2 separate regions of the Homo sapiens genome follow, and region 1 is linked to region 2. Evidence: fine-mapped expression QTL. A gene starts in region 2. The other region holds a variant in brackets. All regions are shown on one strand. Distances are between the middles of the regions.

Region 1 (10,136 bases), 670 kb before region 2:
ATGAGTATGGAAATCCATACATATGGAGAGGAAAGCCCAGGGGACTGTGTGTGAGTGGAGACTGAGTATATACCATAGGCTGCCCCACCAGACGGAGGGTATTACTGGTGCTCTCCTAACATCTGCCCATTACTAGTGATGGATTTAAAGTCTCCAGGCAGTGATAAAGACTGTGTACCCCAAATACATGGCTTTTTTGACTTATCTTGCTAATAATTTCACCTTCAGGGAGTAATAGAAGTTGTATCCCTTAGAATCGTCTCTCACCAACCAGTGAGAACCATTTAGGATTGAATGTGAAAGAGATAAAAACCTTTGGAAGAAAGTGGCCAGGCCAGTCATGGTGGCTCACACCTGTAATCCCAGCACTTTGGGAGGCTGAGTTGGGAGGATTGCTTGAGCCCAGGAGTTGGAGACAAGCCTGGACAACACCAGGAGACCCTATTTCTACAAAAAATTAGCCAGGTATGGTGGCATGCACCTGTGGTTCCAGCTACTTGAGGGGCTGAAGTGGGAGGATCACTTGAGCCCTGGCGACTGAGGGTGCAATGAGCCAAGGTTGCACCACTGCACTCCAGCTTGGGGGACAGAGCAAGACCCTTTCAGAAAGAAGAAAGAAGGAGAGAGAGAGGGAGAGAGAGAGAAGGAAGGAAGGAAGGAGGGAAGGAAGGAGGGAAGGAAGGAAGGAAGGAAGGAAAGAAGGAAGGAAGGAAGGAAGGAAGGAAGGAAGGAAGGAAGGAAGGAAGGAAGGAAGGAGCCACAGGATCCAAGCTTTAAAGGTATTGGTAAACATGTACCTCAGATGTGCATTTCTAAAAATGCAGACGTAGTGATTCAAAATTTCATATGGGCCAATAAACAAGATTTATTTCAGAAAATGTGAATAAGAAGAACAATGAATGGGGAATATATATACCAGATATTAAAATACAGCAGTCCCTCAGTGTCCATGGGGGATTGGTTCCAAGACTCCCATAGATATTAAAATCCACAGATGCTCAGGTCCTGATATAAAACGGTGCCATATTTACGTATAACCTATGCACATCCTCCTATATACTTTAAATCATCTCTAGCTTACTTATAATACTAATACAATGTAAATGTTACGTAATTAGTTGTTGTATTGTTTTTAAAATTTGTATATTTTTCATCATTGTATTGTTATTTTTATTGTGTTTTTTTCCTGAATGTTTTCAATGAGGTTGGTTGAATCTGCAGATGCAGAATCTGTGGATACAGAGGGCCCACCATACATACTCTTTTTGAGGGGCAAGGATGGTATACAGTGAAAACTGGAAACCCTGTTAGATAAATTCTAAAAGAGCTGTCACACTCAACTCTATATTCTACAATGGCAGTAACTAAACAGTATGGTACTGCCTCAGAACAGACAGACACGTCTATGGAACAAAATAAAGAATCCAGAAATAAACTGAAACACATCTGGGAATGTAATACATTATATAGATGCCATCCCAATTGAGTAAAGAGAAAGTGGATTATTTGATCGGTGGTGTTGAATCAACACAGAAGAAGCCATCTTGAAAAGATAAAGTTGGATCCGTGCCTCACACCTTACACCTGGATAAATTCCAAATGTAAGAAATCAAAACCCCAAAATAGTAGAAGAAAGCATGAGAGGATATTTAATAAGTTGAGATGGGAACAACTTATCCAACATAAGATTCAGACATTATAAAAGAATAGGTTAATAAAATTCTATCATGAAAACATAAAATGAAAATTCTCTATGCAATAAACATTACAAGCAAAGTCAAAAAGACAAATGACAAATCAGGAAAATATCTACTTCCTCCATCACAGACAAAGACCTAATTTCCCCACCATGCATGTTTTCATGCAAATTAATTTTTTAAGATGGTTAATCCATTTAAAAATGAGTAAAGGATATAAACAGTTCATAGAAAAGTAAATATAATAAGGCTCTTTAAAATATGAAAAATGTTCACAGCACTCACAAAAAAATACAAGTTAAAACTACCCTGAAATACAATTATTTGCTGCTGAAATTGGCAAAGATCCAAAACCCCGATAACATACTCAGTTGGTGAGGCCTGGAGTAAAGGGAACTCATTTATCACTGGAGGGGAAATAAATTGGATGGACGCAAAGGTCAATATGGCAATATCTATTAAAATTACAAATGTGCCTACCCTTTGACCTGGCAATTCATTTCACAGTCTTTATCCTACAGTTGTACCCACACATATGCAAAATGATGTATGTACAAGATTATCTGTTGCAACAACGTAAGAGAGAAAGATTGGAAACTACCTAAATGTCCATTAAAAAGGGACCTGGACAAGGAAATATTATTAAGGTGTAAAAAAGAACAAAAGATCTCCAATATATGCTGCTAGCTGAAAAAAAAAAAAGATATGAAACAACGAGTGAAAAGGAGAGAAAAGAATATATATCTTTTTCAAGTGCATAAAAATCTCTGGATGGATACTCAAGAAACTGTGTCACTAAGAGCAAGCCATATTCAAGGGGAGAGAAATTAGACTCTGTCTTTGATGGGAAGAGGGTCAAAGAATTTGCAGACATATTTAAGACCAGTTTTTATACTCCTAAAATTCTGAACCCCATGAATATATCACCTATTCAATATTTAATCCATCAATTTTTTAAAAACAAGGGAATGAGTACCACTGGGTTTCCAAGTTGTGGCAGTTTACTTCTGTCAAAAGAAAAGAAAACATTCAACTGTCATCAGAATTTTTTGCAAGTTAGACTTGATTTCAGCATTCCAGGAGGTCCTAGGAGAGATTCCTCCTGGTTTCTTGTGGGGATTCAAACCCAACCAGAAAGAGAGGGATAGAGGCAGACAGGGAGGGAGGGAGAGAGAGAGAGAGAGAAAGAGAGAGAGAAAGAGAGAAATATGTTATATGTTATGCCGGTGGTAGTTAGCAATGTGGTAATTGTTATAACCCCCTTTATAATTCTGTGTGATTTCTAACATTTTTTCATTGAGCAGAAATTTTTGTAACCAAAAAAACTGTTATTTAAAAATTTATATATTCTTCAAAGTTCACTTATTAGTTAAAATTCACGTATTATTTCAGATTCACCTTGCCTTCCAACAAAGACACATCCCTGGAGAAATGTTGCTTCTGCTAATGGAGTGCTAAGCTGAAGGATGCTGGTAGAAAAATTCAAAAGAAAACTATACTTTTAAAAAGAAAATCTAGAGTGGACAAAGAGAAATACAAGAGAAGGGAAAGGCTGGACAGCATTGCTGACGAGGTTGCAGGGTAAAAGTCAACTGGAGTATAAAGGAGCCATGAAGAGACCATCAGACGAACGCTGGGCACCTTAGACAGTAAACACTAGATAAATTCCATAAATTAGGTATCTTCAAAGGGGGTTTTATGCTTGGCCATATGGTCTGTGATGTACAATTCTTCCTCATTTCTTTATGACAGCATCAGTAACTTTGTATATATGTATGTAGTTTTCCAAAACACCCCCACCTCCAAAGGAATTCAGCTGAACAGGAACCTGAAAACTTCCACCTGTAGAAGGATATCCCCAGCAGAGTCTTGGGACAGGAAATAGGATGGTCTGGGCCGGAAATGTGAGAAGGTCAGTTGGCTGGAGCCATAAAGCGTCAGGTAGGGAGAGACAGGAGATGGGGCCTGATGGACAATAAGCAGGAGGCAGGTCTTGGAGGTCCCTATGTCTTACAGGACTTGTGGACGTTATCTCATAGATTACTTGGAACTACCAAAGAGCCTTAAATGGGAGTGTCTTAGATTTGTAACTTAAACTGAGCATGTGGCTGCAGCTGGAAGACAGATTGGAGTGGTCAAGATTGGAGACAGGGAGACTAATTAGGGTTTTATTTTGCAACAAACCTCATCCAGGTGATGGATGAGGATGGTGGAATAAGGATCGTGGTAGTGGGGAGAAAGAAACACACAGGTATGAGAACTCTCCAAAGGATAGAATGGGCAAAACGGAGTGATTGATTGGACTGAGGTTAGGTGAGGGAAGGGTTTCTGTGATGTTTCTTAGGTTTCTTGGAATGGATACTGTTGACAAAACAAACAAACAAACACACAAAGCATATATAGAGAAGACCCGTTGTGTGAGCCTTTTTAAATTGTTGCTTATTTCTTTTGTTGTCTGTAAGGAAGCTATGAGTTCAGTTTCGAACATGTTGCATTTATATTATTTATGGGACAACCAAGTAGAGATGTTCAGCTGGTGGTTGGATACTTGAGTCCAAGGTTTGGGGAGCATTCTGGGCTAGGGGTATAGAAATCATTAGGATACAGGCAAATAAATGATACAGAGGGATGGGTTCACCCCAGAATATCAGCACAGTAAGAAGGGTCATGGGGCAAGCACAGAGCTTTGGAAAGTGATGTCTGGAGTTAGAGATAGGACTCTAGGGTTTAGGACTCCAATGACTGAGTAGATGTTGACCTGATTATTTCAGGCAGGCACCTTTAGCTGCAGTAACTGGGACTCGTTCAATTTATCTCAAGAGAAGGGAGGTTTTGTGGAAGGGTCTGGATCAGACCCGGAGACCTCAGCAAATGAGGCAGGTCTGGGGGTATCCATCTCTCTCCAACCCTATTTATTTCTGTATATCCTCTTCATTTTCACAGTATTGACTTTATTATCTCTTCTCTAGGGCCAATTTCTCCAAAATTTGGAAGGTCTATAAACATCTTAAAACTGTAAGCAAATTGTTCATTTATGCATTTCTCTGCAAGGGGAGTCTGTAGCTTTTGTAAGATTCTCAGGGTAATCTAAGATACAAAAGAAGCCCAAAACCTCCTCCTTATCTCTGTCTGTCTCTCTCCAGAAAGAAAGAAGCCTTGGCTTGCCTCAGCCCCACCTTAACCCCACAATATCCATTCACTTCCCGATCACTTGCAAATTACAAAATTCTTTTTATTTTCCTAGTTCAGATTTTAAAATTAGAGGATATGATTGATCCAGTTTTTTTACATTAGGCCAAAGTTAATAGGATTATTGCTGTGGAGTCAGGGTTAGCTAGCAAGGGGGTGTGATGACAGAATATAAACCCAGGCTGCCTGAGAAGGAGGTTAGGTAAAGAAGCTTCCCTTGGAAGGGATGCGGTGCAGACAGGATGGAAGGTAAAGGCTTGGCCTACGCAGCATGCCCGTTACCATTAAAGAGGAGTAGATTGTGTATCCCACATATTGTGTGAGATGATCAATAGCTGGCTGGTTGCAATTACCCAAAGAGATTGGATTACAGGATTGATATTAAACTGGAAGATATCTAATGGAATGCTACAGATTTTGTAGAAGATCCCAACCTTATCTTTTCAACATTTATGTTAATTAAAGTTTATCAAACATGAATATCAAATTTGAAGCTGGGGGTGACATAATATATTGGAAGACAGAGCTGAGTCTCAAAACGATCTTGGCAAGTTGGAACAAGAGATCAAAACAAACAAGATTAAATTTAGTGGGGCTGAATATAAAATATTGTATTTAGAATTATTAAATTCAAACACACAACTACCACATCAGGAAGAAGTGGCCAATTATATGTTCATATATAGCTTTAAATAATCTCTAACCAATTTGATCCCAAAGAATAAGGCAATTGCTGAAGAAAAAGAAGAAAAAAAAGAAAGAAGACAGAGAGAAGAAGCAGAAGCAGGAGGAAAAGGAGGAGGAATAGGAAGAAGGAAGAGGAAGAAGGAAGGAGGAGGAGGAAGAAGAAGAAGGAGGAGGAGGAAGAGGAGGAGGAGGAGGAAGAGGAGAAGGGGGAGGAGGAGGGGGAATGTCCTGTATTAATAAATGTTTAAATGCCCAGATCCAAGTGTGGTGCTCCATTATTCATTGCTCAGAGGGCATCTGCATTCAGTGTCTAGCT[G/A]CTGGGGCCCTATTTGGAAAGATCCAGTAAACACAATATACTCTGCTCCTTAAGACAGCCTGCCTGGGCTGGGCACGGTGGCTTATGCCTGTAATCCCAGCACTTTGGTAGGCCAAGGTGGGTAGATCTGAGGTCAGGAGTTTGAGACCAGCCTGACCAACAGGGAGAAACCCCGTCTCTACTAAAAATACAAAACTAGCCAGGCATGGTGGTGCATGCCTGTAATCCCAGCTACTTGGAAGGCTGAGGCAGGAGAATTGCTTGAACCCGGGAGGCGGAGGTTGTGGTGAGCCAAGATCATGCCATTGCACTCCAGCCTGGGCAACAAGAGCAAAACTCCTTTTCAAAAAAAAGGAAGGAGGGAAGGAAGGAAGGAAGGAAGGAAGGAAGGAAGGAAGGAAGGAAGGAAGGAAGGAAGGGAAAGAAAAAGATAGCCTGCCTGGCTTCGACTTGGATTTCCTCCTAAGTTATTTTCTCTTAAATTACTTGCTCATGCTCTATTTGTTCCAGTCCATAGGCACATGATGCCCTTCTCCTGTGCCTGCTGAAGTCCTAGCATCTCCCCTCCAGGGACTGCAGTGAGCTCACACAACCCTGGACTCAAACTCTTGTCATCATGATCTTGCAATGATGCCCACTCCACGCCTTGAAACAGACTCCCAGAAGTGCCAGTGAGCAAACGTGAGGATGGGTTGTTTAGTCTTCATGGTGGCAACAACAGAAGAAACTGAGGTACAGAGTCATATCTCAAAGTAAGTGACCAGCACAGTTAGGATTCAGACTCCACATATTTGACCCCAAAGGCATGGCCACCCCTCATCCACTTTTTTCAGCTCCCCTTTGAGCTATGGCAACACAAAATCCAAGAAATCGATTTTTGAATAGTCTGTTTTGACTCTTTGGAATCCTCCCTTCTCCTTTCTTATCCTTCAGGCTGTCAGTCCCCATCTGCTCTGCCCCCAAGACCCCAGCATCTCCCCCTACTTCCCCCCTTCCCTCATACAGAGTCAACATTGTGACTGACACTTTTGTTTGCATGAACCCTCGCTTGAGTAGATAACCTCTGCTCAAAGAACACCTTGAGATGCAGATAGTTTTGGTCACAGTTTGGAAAGAGCAGGGGGTTGTGCCCCCAATGGTTTGGCTTACCAAGCAAACTTGCCACATAAATCTGAGTAACCCACACATCATCAGTGATATCAACATGCTCCCAAACCTAGCTGTGGAGGTCCAAAGATTGGCACATTTCCTTCCACATGGGATGAAATTGAGCCACGTCAGAAATTAGGTTAACTGCATGCATGAGAGCTGTGCAACAAATCAGATAAAATCCTCCAGGGTCCCAGGCTTGTGAAGGAGGGCCTCAGATGGAAGAAGAAACCACAGCTGTGTCCATGTTCAATGTCCTGGTGTTGATTGTGTAGGGGTAGTAAGAGTCAGAAGGGAGGCCAAGGTCATGGGCAACGAGGCAGTCAGGTGGAGCTGGCACAGCCATGGGAGGAGCATGAACCGAATAGACAAAGTGTACCATCCAACAGAGCATAATGCTCATGCTGGGCAAATGAGATACCACCAGGGAGGACCAGCCCTTCCCCTGACAGCAAAACGATAGGGTAGGAACACCTGGTCCCAAGCAGAGATTCGGTCAGGCCTGGGTTCTATGGGGCCCATGGGCCAGGAGGCTGGCCTCATTGGGCAGAGCATGCAAACCCTGCATAGTCCTGTTTCCTTTCCTCCAACCTACCAGCCAGGCCAAGTGTACATTTTCAGGCTAATGATCTATGAGGCTGCCAAACTAAACTTCATTTTCTGTTTGAAAGATTTTTCCAGTTTGGGGCCAGGCGCAAGGCTTGGCAATTTTACCCAGAGTTCTCCTTACACATGCAGTAATAACAATTAACCAAAAGCAACTGTGTGCCTTAGGGTATCCAAGCCCCTAGAATGTGCAAATGAGTCCCAAGGCAAGCGGGGAGTCAGGCGGGGGCACATCTGCTCATTTTCCTTTCCAAAATCATTGCAGTGCTAAGATCCCTTCCCCGCTTGCCAGGAAAGCGCTGCCCGGTGACTTGTTGCTGCCAGCAGTGGCTGCACATGGCCCCCTAAGTAGCAATTTAGGGCGATGTCCCATTTGCCAAAGAACAGTTACATACATTGACTAGTAGTACAGTTCAGACTTCTGTGGTTTGTGTGTACTTAAATAAAAATTACAGTCCACTCTTGGAAAGCATAATGAAAACTTGGTCTTTTTTAAGGATTCTAAGCTATTTAATTGGTCCAAATAACATCTGTCCCTGAACCTTACACCATTACCTACCAAGTCACGGAGGAGATGCAGGTAATGTGGTTACTGCCTCCACAAGAGGGTGACATCACTCACGCCTTGTTAAGTGGGTCCTTCTGTTCTCTAGTGTCAATCCCTGGTTGCTTCCTTTCACAAAGCTTCTTATCCAACACACTATCATTGTCATTAGTCAACTAATTAAAATGCCTATTAACATGGAGAATCATAAAAAAGATTAATACGTACAACCAACATTTGACTTTAACCTAAAAATAAATGTACCTTAATTTGCCAGTTTTTCCTTGTGCCAACAATCCCCGATCCCTCTCTGACCAAAGTCAACTAAAAAAGAAAGAGAAACTTAACGCAACACTTCCCCAAACCTAAGTTCCTTGACTAATCATAAAATAATCCTGGGCTTAAAAGTCACCTGAGAGATTAGCTCATTCCACTCCTTTAACAGAACTGAAAATAATGTAAAATTTTTTATCATTTTACAGAAGAGAAAAATGAAGTCAGAACAAGGATGTTAGCAAAACTGAGAGAGTTGTGAGTGCTTGCAGCAAAGGGGTTACCGATGCTAAATAAGCTCATCTGCTCTCTAGAACCCCAGACAGATTCACGAATTACAGGCCCCGCTAGAGTGTCATTGAAGGTGGGAGACAGGGCATTGAATCAATCAGGAAGATTGATTAGATGTCACAAAAGAGGCAGTAAGACTTCCCAACTTGTCCAGTGGGGTAACTGGTCCCCATGCCCACTGCCACCAGGATATGCAGGGGTCTTATTTGGGGGATGACATGGACAAGCTCCAGGCTCGAGGCTACCAGGCAGGTCAGAGGGCAGGGGCTGGTGCCCCGCTGACATCAGGGCAAGGAGTAAAAAGCCCAGATGCTGGACCCTAAGACCCCACCACCATGCTGCCTGGGCAGAGCTCAGGCAGTCACCCCCAGGCAGGAGACTGGAGCGAGACTGGAGGTATGATGTGTGCAAAGCCGCAGAGGCTGAGACTGAACTGCAAACAACCAGGCAGGGAGAGCATGAGCCCTGAGCAGGGAGGTGGGCAGAATTCCAGTGAGGGTGGGAGACCAGAAGGCTCTAAAAAAGTGAAATGGCATGGCCAAACCAGCACTGGAACAGGATCGCTCTGGCAGCAGAGGGGCTCTAAATAATGAAGGAGGTAACACTGGGAATGACTGGTTGGGTCCAGGTGAGGACGACAGCTCCTGAAGAAAGGCATATGGGGGAGGGAGAATAGGTTTGAGAGGAAAAGTTAAAACTAACAGAGTCAGGCCGTCTCTCACTGACCTCTTGGTTCAAAAGGTAGGACCCCAAGCTCCCAATGTTGCCCCTTTAACCTTGCCAGTTAATAGACCCAGAAAGACCTGGGTAAGTGAATGTAAAGAAATATTGCAAGTTGAGCCATGCGGTTGCTGTGAGATTTTAAACCAGTTGCCCACTTCTTGCCAGGAAATGTAATCTCATTTTGGGTTAGATGGATCTGCCAGGAAATACTCCAGTGTGCAGTGAAGCTGTGGAGTAGAGGTCAATTTTACAATTACGAAATAGCTGGCTTTTCCAGAAACACCAGCAGTCACCCGTCTACATCCTCAAACGGCAGCTATGAATATCACACCTGTGCAGCCTGTCACTGGGGGACACACTGGGGATGATGATTCACGTACGGTGGGAATGTGGGGGTACGCTGGGTGCACAGCCAAGTGTGTGCTATGAGCTGGACAAGGTGGGAGACGAGGTTGAGGCTCCTCTACAAACCTCGTCAGCTAGGGCTGGGCATCAAAATTAAACTTGTGCTTCTACCACAGCCCTCATTGTATCTTCTCATGGCCTGGGCAGTTCTTGGACCATCAAGGTCTACAAAATTGGCACTCCCCCCAAGAGAACTAAGCCTCCTTTACTTCTTCTACTTGGCACTGACGATGACTTGAGCTGTGACAGAGCAAAG
Region 2 (10,136 bases):
TTAAAATGTCAGAACCTCAGGTTGTGTTACAGGTTGGGATTCAGGATCCACGGTTTAAGAGGGTTTCACATGGGCCGGGCGCAATGGCTCACGCCTGTAATCCCAGCACTTTGGGAGGCTGAGGTGGGCGGATCATGAGGTCAGGAGATTGAGACCATTCTGGCTAACACAGTGAAATCCCATCTCTACTAAAAATACAAAAACTTAGCCGGGTGTGGTGGCGGGCATCTGTAGTCCCAGCTACTGGGGAGACTGAGGCAGGAGAATGGTGTGAACCCGGGAGGTGGAGCTTGCAGTGAGCTGAGATCGTGCCACTGCACTCCAGTCTGGGTGACAGAGGGAGACTCCATCTCAAAATAAATAAATAAATAAATTAATTAATTAATTAAAAAAAGAGGGTTTCACATGAAGAACTTGAAGAATAAGACTCGTCTGTGGGGACCATGTGCACAGGCACTGTGTGTGCAAAGGTCTTTATCATCAGAACCTCAGAATAGATGCATGCTCAGAGTTATCCTCCCATGCCCAGGATGGATGAAGCAAGACCTGCCTAACTAGTGAGGACACAAGTGCACGCCTAGCTTCTCCACTAGCCTCAAGCTGAGAAATGACGCCAACATTTTTTTACTCTCCTCCCATGTCCAATTAGCTGCCAGGCCCAGGAGACTTCATCTCTTTGTTATCTCATGATATCTCTGTGCTGGTATCTTCATTCCCATAACTGCCACCTTTCTTAGTCCTCTTTCCCTCACTCTGGGGTCACTGCAGTGGGCTCCCTGAAGGGCTGGGTCCAGTGGCCCCTCACGAGACACCCTCTGTACTGGAAGTTGAGTAATGGCTCTAAAACACCAATCTAATTATTCATTCTCCCCACCATGTTCTGGCCTCCGCATACAGCTTTCCACCTTGAGTTAGCCTGTTCATAGCTTTTCTCTGTCGAGACTATTCTCCTCTCTTTCTTCTGGCTAACTCCAGGAAGTCTTTCAAAACCTGGGCCCAGCCCACTTCTCTCAGTGCATGTCTTCACAGTCTTCCCATTCAGATTTCAGAACCCTCCTCTGCTCTCGAATCAACCCATGCAGACCAGTCTTATGGGTGCGTCATGTTGTGTTGCCATGGCCAATTCATGTCATCAATCAATGGGCTACCAGGCGTAAGCAACCTGGGGGCAGGGGCTCTGTCCTACTCCACTGTGCATCTCCATTGCATGTGCCATTCTTGCACACGGCACTTGGCACGGTTCTGATGACTTTATAAATATTAACTTATAACAACACATGATTGTTAGAGGAATGTGCAAGCATTCATTCAACAAATGGGTACTGAATATCTAGCAGGTGCCAGGTACAATTTTAGGTGTTGGGGATTCAGAAGTGAATGAGACACCCAAACTTCTTATCTCAGTGAATTTGTAACCTGTCAAGGCAAATGAATGATAAACAGATAGGCAGGCATATAATATAATGTGAGGCAGTGACAGGAGGTATAAAGAAAAATAAAGCTGGACAAAGGGATGAAATATGACAGAGTTGTCATTTTAGATGAGATGGTCAGGCCAGGCAGTCTGAGCAGAGGCTTGAGCAAAGTGAGCAGAGAGCCCCGTGGATTTGTGTGTGTATGTGTGTGTGTGTTGGGGTGGGGGGAATGGGGTGTCAGGCAAATGAAACAGCAAGTGCAAAGGCCCTGGGGCAAGAACAAACTCAGCCTGTAAAGAGCACAGCAAAGAGGCCAGAGTGCTGGAATGCAGGGTATGGGGAGGTATGCAATAGGCCTATGGGTTAGGCCAGGTAGAGTCTTTCAGGCATGCTGAGGCCTTTGGAGTTGATTTGAAGTGTGAAGGGTATTCACTGGCAGGTGCCAAGCATGACGGGTGATGATTCAACTTATCTTTTATGGGATCTATGGACTACGAGGGGCATCACTGGAAGCAGGTAGACCAGTAAGGACAGTGGTCCTGATAGTGATGATGGTGACTTTGACTCCCCAACCATGGCAGGGAGAGGTGGGCAGACTCTGGATGCATTCTGCAAGTGGAGCAGACAGGATTTGCTGATGGTTGGCTATAAAGGATATGAGGACCAGATGACTCCATGGCTTTTGGCCAACTGGTGAACTGGTGATTTTATTTATTGATGAAGGAGGAATGGCTTGAGAGTAAGGTTGGAAATGAAGTATTCTGTTTTAAACCTTTAAGTTGGACTTGCTAGCAGGACATAGTTTTGCCTTCTATGAAATGGAGATAATGTTTATTTATAAATTTTAATGAGAATAAAATGTGATCATTTTCTTTGATGTTATATAGATAGAAGGTCTCTTTTCTTTTTTAGAGAAAAGGTCTCCCTCTGTCACCCAGGCTGGAGTGCAGTGGCATGATCAAGGCTAGGCCCACTGCAGCCTTGAACTCCTGGGCTCAATCCCACCTCAGTCTCCCAAGTAGCTGGGACTACAGACACACAACACACCACCATGTCCAGCTAATTTTTAAATTTTTTAGGAAATGAGGTCTTGCTACGTCGCCCAAGCTGGTCTAGAACTTCCGGCTTAAGCGATACCCCTGGTTAGGCCTCCCCAGTCAGTGGGATTATAGGTGTGAGCCACCACAGCAGGCTTAGAAGGTCCATTTTTTATTCACACTCAAGCTAGGGGTAGAGTTCTTTTTAAAAGAACACAAACAAAACTCCATCTTATTACTTAGATATTGCTTCACTGTACAATGGTCTCTCTCATCAAGAAATGACATTGGTAACAGACCCATTCTCTATATTTATTTATTTAACATTTATATAGAACTTACTATGCACCATGCCTTATTCTCAGGACTTTGTAAGTATTAGTGAATACGATCCTGTAAAACCCCTTGTGGTATATACCATTATTACCCACCCATTTTATAGATGAAACTATGCCGCAGAGAAGTGATTTGCTCAAGGTCCCACAGCTAGTAAATGGCAGAGCCAGAAGTCAACGCCAGTGGCTCTAGCTGTGCTCCGACCACTACTGCACATCCTCTGCTCCCTGAAAGCCTGGCCATCTCTGACATGTGACAAGCCTGTGATGTATCCAGCCCCTTGGGTCTGACACCACTGCCTGCCCCTGTGCCCAGATAGGCGTTCCTGCCTTGGTTCTTACAAAACCCCTGCTCAAAAGAAGCCTGTTAGTATTGAGGGCAACACCCCTCTTTGTCTCTCAGTCCTCCCCAGGCTGCTGCCAGCCACCCAGCACTGTGTCCTTTGTGCCTTTCTTCTAATGCCCTAGGTCAGCCTCCACCCCGCATTGCCACACACAGCTTTTTTGGTATCCTGCTCTCTCCACGCGCCCCGCCTCACTGCCAGTTGTTACAAGTTGTTTTAAACTCTTGCAAGTATCACGTTTTCCACTCGTGTTGCGGCAGACCATGTGCTACATTGAGCCCAGTGCTGAAGACAGGAGATGAACATGACCTGACCCATGACCTCTCCAGAGACCTTCAGCTAGAAGACGTGCCTTTCACTTTTTAGTCCCCTCTCCCGGCACCAAATGGGTGCGAAGCGGGCATTCGATGAATATGCATACATTTATTTAGCAAATGTTTATTGAGCGCCTACTACATACAGGGCAAGGCAGTGTGCCAGGTGCCAAGGATATGGCGGAAAACCAGACAGACGCAGAGTCCCCATGGCTCCAGAGGTGCGGGGCCAGCCTTGGCCAGTCCTCCTCAGTGCCCCCTCGAGGGCCTGGGAAGGGTGCAGGGTGGTGGAGGTGGGGGCAAGCTGGGAGAAGTAAAGGCTGCGGTAAGTGGCGACGGCAACAGGAGCCGAAGCAAGAGGCGGGCGTGGCATGTGGCCAGGGCGACGTATCCGTCTCGAAACTAGACACGAGACGCACGTGCCGCAGCGGCCTCGGAGACCCCCTGCCCCGCTGCGGCCGTACACACCACAGCGTCTACGCGGGGGCGGGCATGGGCCTAGGGGCGGGGGAGGTGGGAGGCAGATGGGAGCCCGCCAAGACTGGACTGTCTTGGAAGAAGGCGGCTGAACCGTGCGTGCGCGGCCGGAGCGGGGGCGCGCGATTGGAGCAGGCTAGCTTGGAAGGAGACCGTAGAAGTCTGCGGTTCCGTGCCCAGACTCTGGGGCCTGGATTCCAATCGCAGGCCTGTTGCTTATATATGTCACCTTGCGCAAGTCCCTTAGCCTTCATTGCGGCTCATTCACATCACTGGTAAAATGGGTTTACAATAACCTTAGGTTGCTGCGAGGACTAAAAGGGACAATACCTGGAAAGGCGTTAGTATGATGCTCAGCACGCAAGAAACGCTCCGGGAGCCGAGGTTATTATTATCGGCTGTTCGCACCTCGCCGGGTCCCCTCACCTACCCCAGGCCAAGGCGCCCACTGCTCTCTTCCAAGGGACAGGCGACTAACCTATTAGGGCGCGTCCTGCCTAGATAGATGTATTTGCTTGGTTGGGGCGGGGTTTGGAGTGAAGCAGGGAAGAGAAGGAGATGGTGAGGGCAAAGAAAGGGAAGAAGCGGAGGGGCAGGAGGCGGGCGAGGCGGCCTGGGCGGGGCCGGGGAGGAGCCGGGCTGGGCTCCCGGGGCCCGGGCGCAGCGCGCACCCGGAGCTGGCGGCGGCGGGGGCGGGGGCGGCGCGCGGCGGCCAATGGCGCGCGGCGCTGCAGCGAGGGCGGTGCAGGAACACCGGCCGCTGACAGCCAAACTCGCCAACTCCGCCCTCGTCCCCGCGGGATCCCAGAGCCTGAGCCGGCCTGGGGCCGAGGCCGCCCGAGCCGCGAGGCGAGCGAACATGGCAGCAGAATGAGGAGGCTGGCGCCGGGTCGTGGCCGCCGCTGCCGCGCTGCAGCTCGGGATCCCAGTCCGGCGCGCTCCGGGCCGCATCCTTAGCCGGCCTCCTGGCGGCCGCGGGATTATTTCATTCCCAACGGAGAGCTAGGAAGAAAGGAGACTCCCCCGCGGAGCGGTTCCGTGCTCTGGCAGGGTGTAGACGTTTGTCTGTGCGATTCGCCGGCTGCGCAAACGACGCGGGAGAGAGCCGGTCCCGGGCTGCGGCGGCGCGGCCGCGGGGATGAGCCGGCCATGGAGCGGCCTTGGCGGGGCGCACGCAGCGGACTGGCGCTGCCGCGGGAGCGCAGCCTGAGCCGGGGCTCCAGGGGGCTTCGAAGCCTCCGGCGCCCTGGGGGGGTCCCTGCCGCCGACTCCGGGAAGGACGCGAGCCCCGCGTGGCGGACACTGCCGCAGTCACCGTTCTGAGGCGCCCCGAGCTTGCTCCGCCTGCAGCTCGGTGCGCTCTGGGCACCCGGGCGCCTTGCCCGGTGCACGGCGGCTGGCGCACCGCGGCTAGATTGGCTACAGGAGCGGGGTGCAGGACTGGCTAGAGGTGGGTGTGTGCGCGCGTTGGACTGGAGATCCGAGCAGAAGCAGAACCAGGCGGCTCTGAGCAGCCATGCTTCCCGGGGTGGGCGTGTTCGGCACCAGCCTCACGGCCCGTGTCATCATCCCGCTGCTGAAAGACGAGGGCTTCGCGGTGAAGGCGCTGTGGGGCCGCACGCAGGAAGAAGCGGAGGAGCTGGCCAAGGAGATGAGTGTCCCCTTCTACACTAGCCGCATTGATGAGGTGCTGCTGCATCAGGACGTGGACTTGGTGTGCATTAACCTGCCGCCGCCCCTCACCAGACAGATCGCTGTCAAAACCCTAGGTGAGCGACCCCTACCCCGCATCCTCCGTCCCACCCCCGCCCTTTAACCTTCTCTAGGTTCCTTCCCCCCTGCCTTTCCCTCTCCGCATCCCAGAAGCTTACCCTGCATCTACGCTGCCCCGGGGATCTGAGATCCCAGATCCGACTCAGAGCTCCCTCCTTCCTCGTCCCCGGCCTTCCCCACCTTTGCGCTTCCCTCCTGCCTCCTGGCACCACTTGGACGCGCTTCCCCACGTGTGTAGATTGCAGGCTGGAGAAGGCGTGTGTTCCGGGGATCCGAACTAGGAAGATCAGATGCCGATAATAGGGGATAGGGTGCTCCGCGAGAAGAGGAAAGTTACTCCTCAGCTGTGTGTGTAGTGTCCAAGTGTGTGTGTGTGGGGGGGGGGGATGGGGGGGTGGAGGAGGGTTGTGCGCGCGCGCGCCTGGGAGAGGCGAGTGCGCGCCCAGAAACGCCTGAATAAAAGGCCGCACACGTGTGTCGGGTTTTCTTGGGTGCGATAGAGGACCTGCCCTTCAGCAGCGGTGGCGCCCTGCTAGGGTCGTTTGTTTCTTTCTGCTGTGAGTTAGTTTAGCGTGAGATTGCAGATGTTACCATCGGCTGGAATTATTTCGTCTGCGCTGGAGGCAAGGACGGTGGGAGTGGTTGGATGGGGGTGATGATGTATTAGAATGTTTTCAGAGGCGTCATAGGTTAGTAAAGACTGATTTGGTAAAACCAGGGGGTTTTAACTTTTGACTGCAGCCTCCCGGGAAATGTCTTCTGCCCCAATTTGGAGTAATAGATTTTAAATTTTTAGGAGGATGGGCGCAGTAGCTCCAGAGGCATGGATGCTTTGCATGAGAAAAGGCCCTCCCTAATCGCCTTCAGGAATAGTTTCGGAAGGCACAGTGTTGACCCGTGGGCTGGAGATGAGTTCAGGGTGCCTCACCATCTGGTCCCTGCTCCCCTCAACTCCCAGGCAGTCTGAACAATCTCTGAGGACAGAGTAGCAGCCTCTCAGCCTATGCTCAGGGGAAAGAGAAGGGCATGTTTTGTTCATCATCAGTTCTTGCACGTAACCTAAAACAATCCCAGGAAGGTTGCTTGATCTTACAATTCCAAGAAAATGAGCAGCTCACCTTTGAAAGCTGAAGTTTCTATTGGTGAGGAAAAACACAAAGCTTATAACAAGAACAAAGCTTATAACCAGATGAAGCGAATAGTAGAACAGATTAGAAGGGAGGAGCTGCGAAGGAACAGAGACAACATCCAGAAACCAGCCGGAAGTTATGTAGTCTTGGAAAGACTGTTTTATTTGTTAAAAATAGGTATGGATTCAGGGTAGGTGAAATATACGTGTGTTTTAATTCTGTCTTCGAAGAGCTATGAACAGAATGTAAAACTCTTTCTCCATAGAAAGGCATTTTCATCAGGCCATTTGGCTATTGACTCAGATGCAACATCTGATAGAATTCCTAAGGAGGCTGCCCACATTGTCAGTTTTAATTGTCAGTTAATTTTATTAAGTGTCTGCCCTTTGTGGCCTGTTTCTTTGGCCTTGAACTGAATGCCATTGAACTGAATGCTAATATTTATTTTCTGTTTAATGGAACATGTATGTTGGGTGGATAACTCCCTTGTTTACATTGGCTCTTTGCATATCAAATATCTTATAACGATCTTATGGTATAATTCTATTAGTGCAATTTGTACAAAACTGGTCCCTGATGAGCCCTGCGTATACTGGAGAGCTTAGGACTGGTCATATCTGAAAGACCATGTTGTTAACATCGTTTCTCCACCATAAAGATGGCAGTTCCTGTCCTGGGTTCAGACCCACAGAGCAAACCTAGAGCAGGAGGGTGGCAATTTGGGGAACAAGGATGACCTTGTTTTCTGGCTGTCTCTGGGACCATGGCCATGAAAGTGTCTGGGGGCTCTGGTTTCAAGAGATGTGACACAAATTAGACATTTCTGGATACTTCTTCTGTTCTTATTTTTCAAATATCCCTGTGACTTTAATTAACAAGACATGTCTGTTACCTCTTCAAAACCAGCGATAAGAGGCATAATAGACCTAGTTTAGTAATGGTGATGACAGAATAGGGTTTTGTTCATGTTTTTAGGGTAGGTTTTGAGCTTCTTTCTTCTTTCTTTTTTTAACTCCTTCTTTTGCAGGGTGCCCCTGCGAGTGCACAGTGGGGTGGTCGTCTTGGTTTGCTTTACAGTCACTGTTGAAGGTTCAACACATAGAACGTAGGAAGTGAAAAACCCCAAACAGTTATCAGGCTGATCTGGCTGTTGGGAGTGTATAGATACGAGTGTTTGCCTGGAATTGAAACTAGCTACTTTGACTCATCCTGGTAAATTGTCCTTTTAGCAAAGGCCTGGACTTTGAATTGCTTGCCCAGTGAGGGTGACAGGTCTGTAGCCTTCGATCCACACTCATAACTGGTCACAGGCCTGTCAAAGTAAGGGGCTAGGGACCCTACTTTGTAGGGACCCTACAAAGTGTGGTCTAGGGACCACAGTGAAATGAAACTTCAGATCAATTGAATCACACACATCCTCCTTTAATTTTTAAAAATTTCCTCAAAATCCCTACCTTTGTGAATGAGGCATTCCTCTGTTGTAGAGGCATTTCTACCAAGTGTACTTTCTACACTGTCCAAGGCTGCCTCTTATTAAGTACATACTGTATGCCAGGCAGCATGGTAAGTGCTGTGTATAAAGCATTTCATTTCATGACTAAAATAATCCTCTAAGATAGATATTAGCTCCATTTCACAAATGAAGCAACTGAGATTCAGAGACCTGAGTCACTTTGCTCCTAGACCTACAGCTAGAGATTTGAACCCAGCACTCTACCTCCCCCGGAGTCATTTCTTCCTCTTCCATCAGCTGTACCTGTTCCTCTGCCATAGATCATGGCAGCCCAGGTCAGACTGTTGGAGTTGTCCTTTATTCCATCCCAGCCCTGGAATCGGTTCCCAAACCTGTTTGATGCCATCTGAAACTCTCTGTGTCTGTTCCCCATAGAAGTCAGGTCCTTTCGTAGTTTCTGAACTAGGTTCCAGTCCACCCCACCCAACCCTGCCTCTAGCCACTATCTACACTGCTGCCAGGTATGGAGTATCTGGCAGTGCTAGAGACCTGGTCATGTCATCGTTTCCCCTTTCAGGAAAAGCCCCAGCTGATTGGCGTGACATGCCCAGCCTCACATCCTGAAGAAGTGAGCCCAGCCTCACGTCCTGGTGGCCATTCCCGAACCCAAGGGCTTCAGCGAGCCCACCCTGCTGGGGTTTCCTTGAATGGGCCCTGTTGGCGCACATGTCCAGGTCTCTGTCAGGAACTTCCTTGTCCCTTGAGGTCTCCTTCCATGTTCGCCCTTCAATACTCAGCCCAAGTGTTACCGCTTCCTCTCCCTCAAACCCCCCACCCTACATACCCTTCTGTTGTCTCAGCACTGTGTGCCCCCATCTTGCCTAGCACCTATTTTAAGGCATTCATTTAACATTTAAATTTTATTTAGTTATTTTGAATTGGCTATATATTCATGTGGTACAAATTTCAAATGCTATAAAAGTACACAGTGAAGACTGAATGTCCCCTAGTCCCTGTCTTTGGACAGGAGGCAATCATTATTACCAGTTGTTTATGTCTCCCATTCAAGGCCATATATATATGTATATATAACACATAATATATACATATATTTTACATATACACTAATATATAGATGTATATATAACATAAAATATATGCATATATTTTACATAGAGATACACAAATATGTGAAACTCTGAATGTGAAAGTATTAAAAATAATATATATTTTTCAAGGTATATCCTGGCAAGTATATGTATGGGAATTTAATTTAATTTAATCTAATTTTATTTTATTTTTTGAGACGGAGCCTCGCTCTGTTGCCCAGGCTGGGGTGCAATGGTGCGATCTTGGCTCACTGCAACCTCCACCTCCTGGGTTCAAGTGATTCTCCTGCTTCAGCCTCCTGAGTAGCTGGGATTATAGGTGTGTGCCACCACACCCAGCTGATTTTTGTATTTTTTAGTAGAGATGGGGTTTCCCTATGTTGGCCAGGCTGGTCTCAAACTCTTGACCTCAGGTGATCCATCTGTGTTGGCCTCCCAAAGTGCTGGGATTACAGGTGTGAGCCACTACGCCTGGCCTGTGTGGGAATTTTAAAAACCTTTTACACAGTTGGTAGCATGCCATTCATTCTTATGGACCTTACTTTTGTCATGCAACAATATTAGCTTGAAAATTTATATATGTTAAAATTTAAATATTATTTTAAAAATATATTAAATGTATTAAATTTATTACATAAATTTTATATAGTAATATAATCAATGTTAAGCAATATAAATATTAATATAAATTATATTTAATCAGTTAATATGCATTATTAAATTTATGTATATTTATATCTTTACATATA

Alleles and levels. Positions count from the first base shown, and alleles are read on the strand shown. Sizes are in standard deviations (SD) of each study's normalised expression.
For the expression in prefrontal cortex of the gene that starts at base 4,729 in region 2, allele A in region 1 goes with a higher level than allele G (moderate effect, 0.65 SD a copy in ROSMAP).

Evidence for each region. PIP is the estimated chance that this variant, and not a neighbour inherited with it, causes the effect.
Region 1: its variant is fine-mapped to the expression of GFOD1 in prefrontal cortex (ROSMAP, PIP 0.95).

Annotation. Positions count from the first base shown.
Region 1 is chr6:14,147,664-14,157,799 of GRCh38, reverse strand. It overlaps the pseudogene RNU7-133P. Among named protein-coding and RNA genes, the nearest start is that of CD83, 35 kb to the right of the region's middle. The variant G/A (reference allele first, on the strand shown) is at 5,890.
Region 2 is chr6:13,482,193-13,492,328 of GRCh38, reverse strand. It overlaps GFOD1 (Gfo/Idh/MocA-like oxidoreductase domain containing 1), which reads left to right and starts at 4,729. Exons shown (of 2, transcript NM_018988.4): 1 at 4,729-5,691. The coding sequence starts at 5,439. It overlaps GFOD1-AS1 (GFOD1 antisense RNA 1), which reads right to left and starts at 6,068. Exons shown (of 2, transcript NR_046709.1): 1 at 5,876-6,068; 2 at 5,558-5,648. RefSeq lists enhancers at 3,678-3,807, 5,368-5,477, 8,113-8,182 and silencers at 3,868-3,977, 4,358-4,737, 4,758-5,237, 5,378-5,541.